Linked DNA regions of Homo sapiens. The protein of the gene in region 1 purifies or fractionates together with the protein of each later gene. This does not show direct contact. Each region holds a gene or a part of one and is shown on either strand. Other genes may lie near its edges.

Region 1 (4,460 bases):
CATGTTGGTCAGGCTGGTCTCGAACTCCTGGCCTCAAGTGATCCACCCGCCTCGGCCTCCCAAAGCTAGGATTACAGGTGTGAGTCACCATGCCCGGCCCTGATGTATATATTTTAGTTAGCATTTTACTATATCTCTGTTACACTAAACGCTTTCACCAGTTTCCTTGATAGTTCTCTATGGTTTTCTTCTTTCCTTTCGGTTTGCCCCTTCTCAGTGTTCTTTTCGGCTTCCCTCATCCTATCCCGCAAATGCAGGTATCCTCTCCAGCCCACTTCATGGCTTCAACAGCTATCTATATGCACACGCACACACACCTCAAACCTTTCTTTTGAGTTCCCAACCCACATTAGCTAATATCCCAGGGGCACCTAAAACTCATTATCTCCCCCCTAAACGAGAAAGAAACTGGTATCATTATTCCCCAGTTGTCCAAGTCACAACATTCGTACCTCTTAAACCAATCTGTATCTCCCCATCCGCACTCTCCCTTCCACAGGCAGACCATCATCATCCTTGCCTGGAAAAGAGCCTCACAACTGCTCTCCTTGATTCTCCTCAATTCATTCATCCTTCACACTGCACGCAGCGATCTAAAATGCAAATGAAATTGTTCACACCTCTGCTGAGATTCTTCAAAGACTTTTCATTGCCTTAAGGATAAAAATCAATTAATTTACAAGGCTTCGCATAATCTGGTCTTCCCCTATCTATTACCACTTTCTTAAGCCACACCAGAACGTACCCGCACCATCCTCCCCACCCCCAATTCCCAACAGCCCTACACGGATCAGCTAGGCGACACTTCCTACAGGAAACCGGCGTTCAAAAGGTAAATGCTGAACAAATGAATTCCGAGACGGGATCTGGGCACCACTTTCGGCTCCGGATCCGGGTTTACGGAACGTCCGGGTTATCAGGAAGCTCAGAGGAAAGGTGAAATCCAGATCTTGACCCTTCACTCAAGTTCGCCAGACAAACCGATCCCCGTGGTATTCCGCCCTTATGAGTCATGGCTGCCAATCCCAGCCTTCCAGTGGGTCTTGAAGTCGCCACCAGCCAGCTGTGGCGCCACCAATGTTTCCCATTCAAGAATGCTATCCTCTTCGATCCCTTATTACCGCCCTAAGCAGCCGTCAAGACAAACCGGCGTTGCCAGCTTGCCCCAAAGCAAGATGGCTGCCAATCTCTATCTCTCCTCCCGAAGTGAAGCTATCCACTCCCCGATTAATGCCGCTGCCAGGCTGCCCTCACTTACTATGGCTACTCCGGCTCATGTCTCACTATGGCCTCGAAGCCGCCACTAACCGGCCGGGTTCCGGGAGGCGCCGTTCAGGATGCAGCCACCCCCGCCCGCCTGTCCCCTCCCCCACGGCCGCGGCGGCGGCGGCGGCGGCGGCTGCTGGAGCCCGGATGCGGCGCCGTGAGGCAGGCCCGGGAGAGCGGCGCGGATGGATCCAACATGGCGGCGCCGAGCCTGAGCCGAGAGTGAGGCGGAGGGGCGGCCGGAGTGGGGAGAGGGAGTCGAGCGGGACGGGGCGGGGCCGGGCGGGGCCGCAAAGGGCTTGGGGAAGGAAAGTGGAGGGGGAGGCGGTGGCGACGTCCAGCCTGAGAACCTCAAGAGAGGGAGGTGACGGGACGCTGAGAGGTGGGGGAGGGGAGCTGCCGAGGGGGGCGTGCAGGGGAGATGGCAACTGCGGGAGAGGGCAGGGGTCGAGACGGAGGAGTGAGGGCATGGGGAGGGGCGTAAACAAGGGCTGAGACTGGGCCCAGCCAGGGGTATTAGAGAGGCCGAGGTGGGGAGTGGGGCTGCGATCCGCTCGTATTGAAGGGGGTAGGAGCAGGAGGGAGAGGCTGAGGGTGTGAAGGGGAAGGGGGCTGTGGCATGTGGTTGGAGGGAGGACTGGACTCTGATGAGGGGTGTTGCGAGGAGGTGGGTAAAGGTCAGAATTGGAGTTAAGACGTTTCTGGGGGGCTTCGAAAGTGTTAAATTGGAGGTGGGAGGGGGAAGGGCCTAGGGGAGAATTTGGGTGGAAAAGGAGAGAACGGAGGCTTGGGGAATGGAGAGAGTGTCGGTGGGAGGAGGTAATGGAGAAAGTGAGAGACTGGGAGGAAGAAAGTTTGGGAGGAAGGGGAGTGGAATGGGAGATAGGACAGTGGAGCTGCACGGGTGATAGAGGTTCGGGGGTTTCCCTTTCCCCGGTGGAGAGGAGGAGAGAACAGAGTTAAGCAGCATCAGTTGCAGCCAATTCTAATTGCCAGGCCCTTAGCTTTTAAGAGGGTGGGAAGGGCAGAAGGGAATGGTCATGTGGGTTTGCAGAATTGGGGTTGGATGAGAATTCAACTGGGTTTGTTTTCCAAAAGACTCCCTAGCTTACTGTTCCCTTGTTTTTCCTGCTTGGGAAAATGGGGAAGCCGGTGTCGCCCAAGTGTGGAGGAGCAAAGGACTTTTCTAGTTTTTAGCATTAGCAATACAAGAGTGGGGGAGCAGACATGGCTATATTGGAACCCTATATGCTAAGGTGGAGGCTCTGGAAGTCTGAGGAGGGAAAGAGAAAAGATAGAGTGGCATCTAGACAGGTTAATTAAATGAGTGCTGTAGTTTCCAGACCCTTTTGCTGTTTTAAGTCTGGAAGGGAGGGGGTAACATGGATACTGTATGTAGAAAAACTTTTCCCTGGTGAAACATAGACGTATGAGTGGATGCTGCGCCATTAGATATTTTGTTCTCATTGTGTGCTAGTTAAGGGAAAGGGCCAAATGTAGAATTTGGAGGATAGTGCTGGTCTGCTGTAACCACTTTCCTCCCAGTTTTTTCTAAAGGTGAAAGTTAACGTTAATATTGTAACAAAATAGGAATAAGGAATTGTGGAGGAAGATGAGAAGCTGCCAGAGGGTAATTGGTTTTCCCAGAAGTTCTTAAATTTGGGAGCTGTCTTGCCGCAAGCCATTGAGACTGGAAATTCTTGGAGTTGGTATTGTTTTTGTAAATTGACTAATAGAGAGTTAGGGAAGCCTGGAGACTTGTTGGGGGTGAGTTCTCTAAATGGTTTTAGGCTTGTCTGTGTACTTTTGCAACGAGATTGTCTAATTCTATGGGCCTCTGAGGTTTCAAAGTAAAACTTGAAAATTAATTATTTTCCCCTCCTTATTTGTTTTTGTTTTGCTGCTGGCTGTGAAACTTGTGCTAGGAAGAGACCTGGGAAATTAAGTTTCTTGCGGAGGTAAGTCTGGAACTTTTTTATTGTTTTCAAACAATGGAAGGGAATGGAAATAGCATGGGAGTTATTTTGAGGTTGGGTCCATTAATGAGGAGGAGAATGCCAGGGAAAATGAGTTATCATTCATCCATCTGAGTGCATGAGATCTGTTGTAATCACTGTCTTTAGTTAATTGGAGATAGGAGGTGAAAGAGAAGGAGATTTAGATGTCTTGGGACAATCCCCCAGCTTTGGTTTGTTATTGTCTAGTCTTCTTGGTCAGCTCTGAAACATTTTTTTTTTTTAACATATGGAAGGCTGTATTCTAGTACATTGTCTACTAAATGTTGCCCTTGGAGGGTTGCTGGGACACCTTCCTTCCGTGGGAAACTTTTCCTCTAACTTTCTCTTTCAGCTGTTGGGGGGTTCCTGGCATCCTTCTTTTGAAAACATACTATGTAATTCTGACTTCCAGATATTTGATTACATTTCCTATCCCACCAGCAAGAATGTACTCTTAACCATCTTTAAGATTTTCTATGTAGTTTTAATTTAAGTTTCAAGATACCACTTTTTTTTGTAGTTCTTCTGCATGACTTTTCCTCTGAGGACTTCTGAGAGAGTCAGATATCTCTTAATTCTATGAAATTACAAATATCATCCCTGTTCAGAAAAGATGACTGTCATTTTCATTTCAAGACAGCACTCTTTTTTATTTCTTTCATGTCGCTTTCCCCTAAGGGCTTCTGAGAGAGCCAAGTACCTCAAAAACTACAGATATTCCTGGTTGGGATGAGACCAGACTTTGCTTGGAAGTAGAAACATAGTAGAGAAGGACCAATCAGGAGGAAATCCTGAAGATACCTATAGACTGTTGGCCCTTGGCTGACTTGGACTTCTCTAAAGAAAAAAGCAAAACTCCAGGAAATACAACAATTCCTCAGAATCAATTATTCTTGGGAAACTGTAGGGGAGAATTCATGTGTTACTATCTCAAATACAGCCAGACCAGTCAGTGGGATCAGGACTTTCTGTGTGCTGGAGTTTCGTCTCTTGGTATTTGGCAGTGTTTCAGATACCAAGACTTGAGTTAGTTCTAATTTTCTGTTCAGAGGGTTACATTCTCCTCACCATTCTGATACCTGTCATCTAGAATCTCTGTATGTTTTAAGTTGAGCTCCCTTGCTTCACTGTCACAGAAATACGAGTATATTTTGGTTTTAGAGGAAATTGGTCATGTTTTCTTTTCTAATTTTACTA
Region 2 (3,804 bases), on another chromosome or scaffold:
CGCCCACTGCCACATCCAGCTAATTTTTTGTATTTTTAGTAGAGGTGGGGATTTCTCCATGTTGGCCAGGCTGGTCTCGAATTCCTGACCTCAAGTGATTCCCCGCCGCCTCAGCCTCCCAAAGTGCTGGTATTACAGGCACGAGCCACCGCGCCCAGCCAGAGCCATGGTTTCTTAACCCTCTGAGCCTCTGCTTCCTTGTTGGTCAAACAGGGTCCCTAACATCCCCCTCCCAGGCCTCGTGAGGATTAAAGCAGATCGTGCATTTGACAGACTCAGCATAGCAGCTGGTAGGAAAGAGGCCCTCAAGAAATTCTGCTTCTATCATGTTCATAGTAAACCCCCCAAAACGTCAGCTTTGTAACGTTGTGTTATTGGTATGAAGCATTGACCGAGAGGCCAGCTTAGGCGTGGTTTTATAACAAGGCGTGGTTTTGTAACAAGGTGGAAAAGGCTCCTTGGAGCTTCATGAGCTCTCTTTCCATCCTAACTGTTAAAGCAAAAGGTGATGGAGTTGATTATAGCCCTGCCCCCCAGCACATGCACGCGCACACACACAGGCGGGTACAGGAGAGGGTTCATGGCTCCGAGCAGCTCCATGCAGCTCAGGGGGTCTGCAGACACTGAGCTGTGGAACTCCAGGCACCCCCCCACCCCCGATTACTGAGCGCTCCGTCTCATTCCCAGCTGATAAATGAGAGCGTGGACGAAGCCGACATGGAGAATGCTGGACACCCCAGCGCAGACACGCCAACCGCAACGAACTATTTCCTCCAGTATATCAGTTCCAGGTGTGTGTCTCGGTGTCAGCGGCCAGCCTGGCATGGCGATGCAGGTGGCCGCGAGGGCTTCTGCCAGAGAGGGGTCTGTGGTCCCCGTGCCCGACTCAGGCCCAGAATCCAGGTTGCTCTCAGGCCCCTCTCTCTCATTCCCCACTCTGGGCACAACCTTGGGTGGGCCAGGGTGGTGGGCCTTGTCCTGGGATTCACTGGACGCCTGAGACAGGACCAGAGTTCTGTGGGGTTGTCCAGGGGCCCATGGAGGCTACAGCCCAGCCCTTGGAGTGTGCCCTCTGTCTTGTGGACCTCATGCCCAGAGCAGAACAGAGCAGGCCAGAGGCGACTCAGGCGCCCCCTTATTCTGGGTTTGGGCACCTGGGGCAAAGACCTCATCATGTCCTTGACTGACATGGCTGGGGGTAATGCTACCCACGGACCAGCTGCCCCTCCAGGTGTCTCAGAAGAAAGCGTGTCCCGACTGGGAGATGGGCGGGTAGAGCAGGTGGAAGGTGGCTTCCCTCATGCTGTGGGGCCCCTCCATCAGGGCGAGCTAAGGGTTAATGTTTTCAATGGCACAGGGAGGTGTGTGGCTTCCTGCCTCTGACACGCCACCCCGTGCACAGTGGCGGAGGCCCCTCCACTGTGCCCTCTGTGTCAGTGTGTGCTCCATGGGTACCCATACATTTGCCTGGCCACGTTCCCACGTGACGCCCCACACTCATTGCACATCTTCTCTTCAGTTTAGAGAACTCAACCAATAGTGCCGACGCCTCCAGCAACAAATTTGTATTTGGCCAGAACATGAGCGAGCGAGTTTTGGTGAGTGGCTGTGTTGGGAATGTTCTCAGGGACCAGAGGCTCTCGGCGCCAGCCACAGGTCAAGGGGACATGGAGAGCAGGGCTGCTGTGTCGTCCTATGTGAGATGGGGATGCCTTCAGTAGCAAGTGAGAGAGGGAAGACCCTGCTCAGACTCAGCCTGAAAACTGGCCAGGGCCACTGGCTGCCTACGAACTGGCATTCGCTTTTCCCGGCTCCTCCGTGCTGACCAGGGCCAACTTCATCCCAAGATGGGCTTCCCTGGAGGCTGCAGGGTCCTGCTGGCAGTCGGGGTCCATGGTTCCTCCCCACCAGGCCAACTGACAAAAGTCCTGTGGGACGGAGCCAGCCGTGCTGGTGGACAGGGTTGCTGGCCTCCCTGCTCCTGTGAGCATAACCGCGGCCAAGGCCTTGGGTGCACGAAAGGCCCATCTCCGTTCCCAGGAGCCCAGCCAGCCTGGGAGAGGGTTCTAGAATGGTTTGCCTACCTCTTTACACATGTTCCTTTTTCTTCCTGATTCCACCCAGCTCCATTGCGACTGCGTGAGGGCCTGTCCTGAGCCGCCTGGTCACTCTAGCTCTGTCTGGAGTTAGGCTGCATTAAGTACTCTGCAGCTTCTCTTCCTTCGTGGCCACGCTGTGCTTTTTCTATTTCAATGAAATGTTCAAAGTCTTGCCTCACCCAGACGGAGTGACCAGTGTGGCTCGAGGGGACTGTCGGCTGGTGGCACTCACCCCGTAGTGATGCCTGAGGGACCACGTGGGGAGCTCCCAGGCAGTTCAGGGTGTCACCGGGAGTGGGCAGGAGTGCTGGGGGCAGCGTAGTGTTGGGGGCCAGGCAGAGAGGTGCTCAGAGCTGCTGCTGAAGGACCACACAAGTGCCCTCTTCCTTGTATGCTTTTGTGTCCCTGCAGAGCCCCCCAAAATTAAACGAGGTCAGTTCAGATGCCAACAGGGAAAATGCAGCTGCCGAGTCAGGGTCTGAGTCCTCGTCCCAGGAGGCCACCCCTGAGAAAGGTATGTTAGCGTCCCACCACAGCATGGGGCTCATGGTAGGTCATCTTGGGGGATGCTGGGTCCATTCACACCCCCAGCCGGGAGGGATAAGGGGCCCGACTCCCGCAGCAGTAACAACCACATGTGAACCAGCTCCAGGGCCCTGCCTTGCAGTGAGCAAGGGTTTGTGATAAAGAACTCGAGGGCCTGTGTCGCCTTGTGGCCGTGGGGAGGGTGGGGAGGCGCAGGCAGCAGGCGTGGAGGAGTCCCTCACTGTCCCCCCGTCGACTGCTCGGCACGAACACGAGAGTCTGGGGCCACACTTGGCCCCCAGATGGTCTCCCTGCAGCTTCTGAGGCCATATGCTCTGGCTGTGTCTAGGGTCCACTTGGGTTGCCGGGGCAGGCCTGCCAGGGGCAGCAGGCGTCCTTGAGACCAGAACCAACCCTCTCATCTCCTGTCGGATGAGGGGAGATGGCTCTCCTCTCGCCAAATAATCAGTCAGTCTTTTTGGCCAATAACTTTTCAGAGTCCCTGGCTGAGTCGGCAGCCGCCTACACCAAGGCAACAGCGCGGAAGTGTTTGTTGGAAAAAGTGGAAGTCATCACCGGGGAGGAGGCGGAGAGCAATGTGTTACAGGTGAGGGGCCGGCCCCTCCTCGGTGGCCCTGGGTCTTCCATGCACCTGGGGGTCCAACCGCAAGGGCTGGGCCCACATCCTCTGAGCACACAGGCCTGCCCCTGAGATGACGGAGGGGCCACTGGCCCCACGCTCTGGGACTTTGTTGGTGGCGTTTGTAGAGAGAGCTTAGGCTCAGGGGCTTCTTGCATGTCTTTGGTTTCAGAGGAGGAGGATCTGTTTGAGACATTCTTTGTTTTGTTTTAATTTTTTTTGAGACAATGTCTTACTCTGTCACCCAGGCTGGAGTACAGTGGCACAGTCTCGGCTCACTGCAACCTCTGCTTCCTGGGTTCAAGGGATTCTTGTGCCTCAGTCGCCTGAGTAGCTGGGATTACAGGTGTGCACCACCACGCCAGGCTAATTTTTGTATTTTTAGTAGAGACGGGGTTTCCCCATGTTGGCCAGGCTGGTCTCAAACTCCTGACCTCATGTGATCCACCCGCCTCGGCCTCCCAAAGTGCTGGGATGACAGGCGTGAGCCACCACGCCCAGCCCGAGACATTTTTGATGGTTCAGGGAATGACAAAGACT

Evidence for each region.
Region 2: the proteins of DEDD (region 1) and RANBP3 purify together in Homo sapiens (affinity purification with mass spectrometry; one large-scale study listed by BioGRID and IntAct). This does not show direct contact.

What each region holds. Positions count from the first base shown.
Region 1 is NC_000001.11:161,129,579-161,134,038, reverse strand, and holds the start of DEDD (death effector domain-containing protein), read left to right. Parts: upstream 1-1,371; 5' UTR 1,372-1,488; intron 1,489-1,592; exon of another isoform or gene 1,593-1,648; intron 1,649-3,191; 5' UTR 3,192-3,224; intron 3,225-4,460. UniProt on the Homo sapiens protein: A scaffold protein that directs CASP3 to certain substrates and facilitates their ordered degradation during apoptosis. May also play a role in mediating CASP3 cleavage of KRT18. Regulates degradation of intermediate filaments during apoptosis.
Region 2 is NC_000019.10:5,922,621-5,926,424, reverse strand, and holds part of RANBP3 (ran-binding protein 3), read left to right. Parts: intron 1-687; coding exon 688-791; intron 792-1,519; coding exon 1,520-1,598; intron 1,599-2,510; coding exon 2,511-2,613; intron 2,614-3,121; coding exon 3,122-3,231; intron 3,232-3,804. UniProt on the Homo sapiens protein: Acts as a cofactor for XPO1/CRM1-mediated nuclear export, perhaps as export complex scaffolding protein. Bound to XPO1/CRM1, stabilizes the XPO1/CRM1-cargo interaction. In the absence of Ran-bound GTP prevents binding of XPO1/CRM1 to the nuclear pore complex.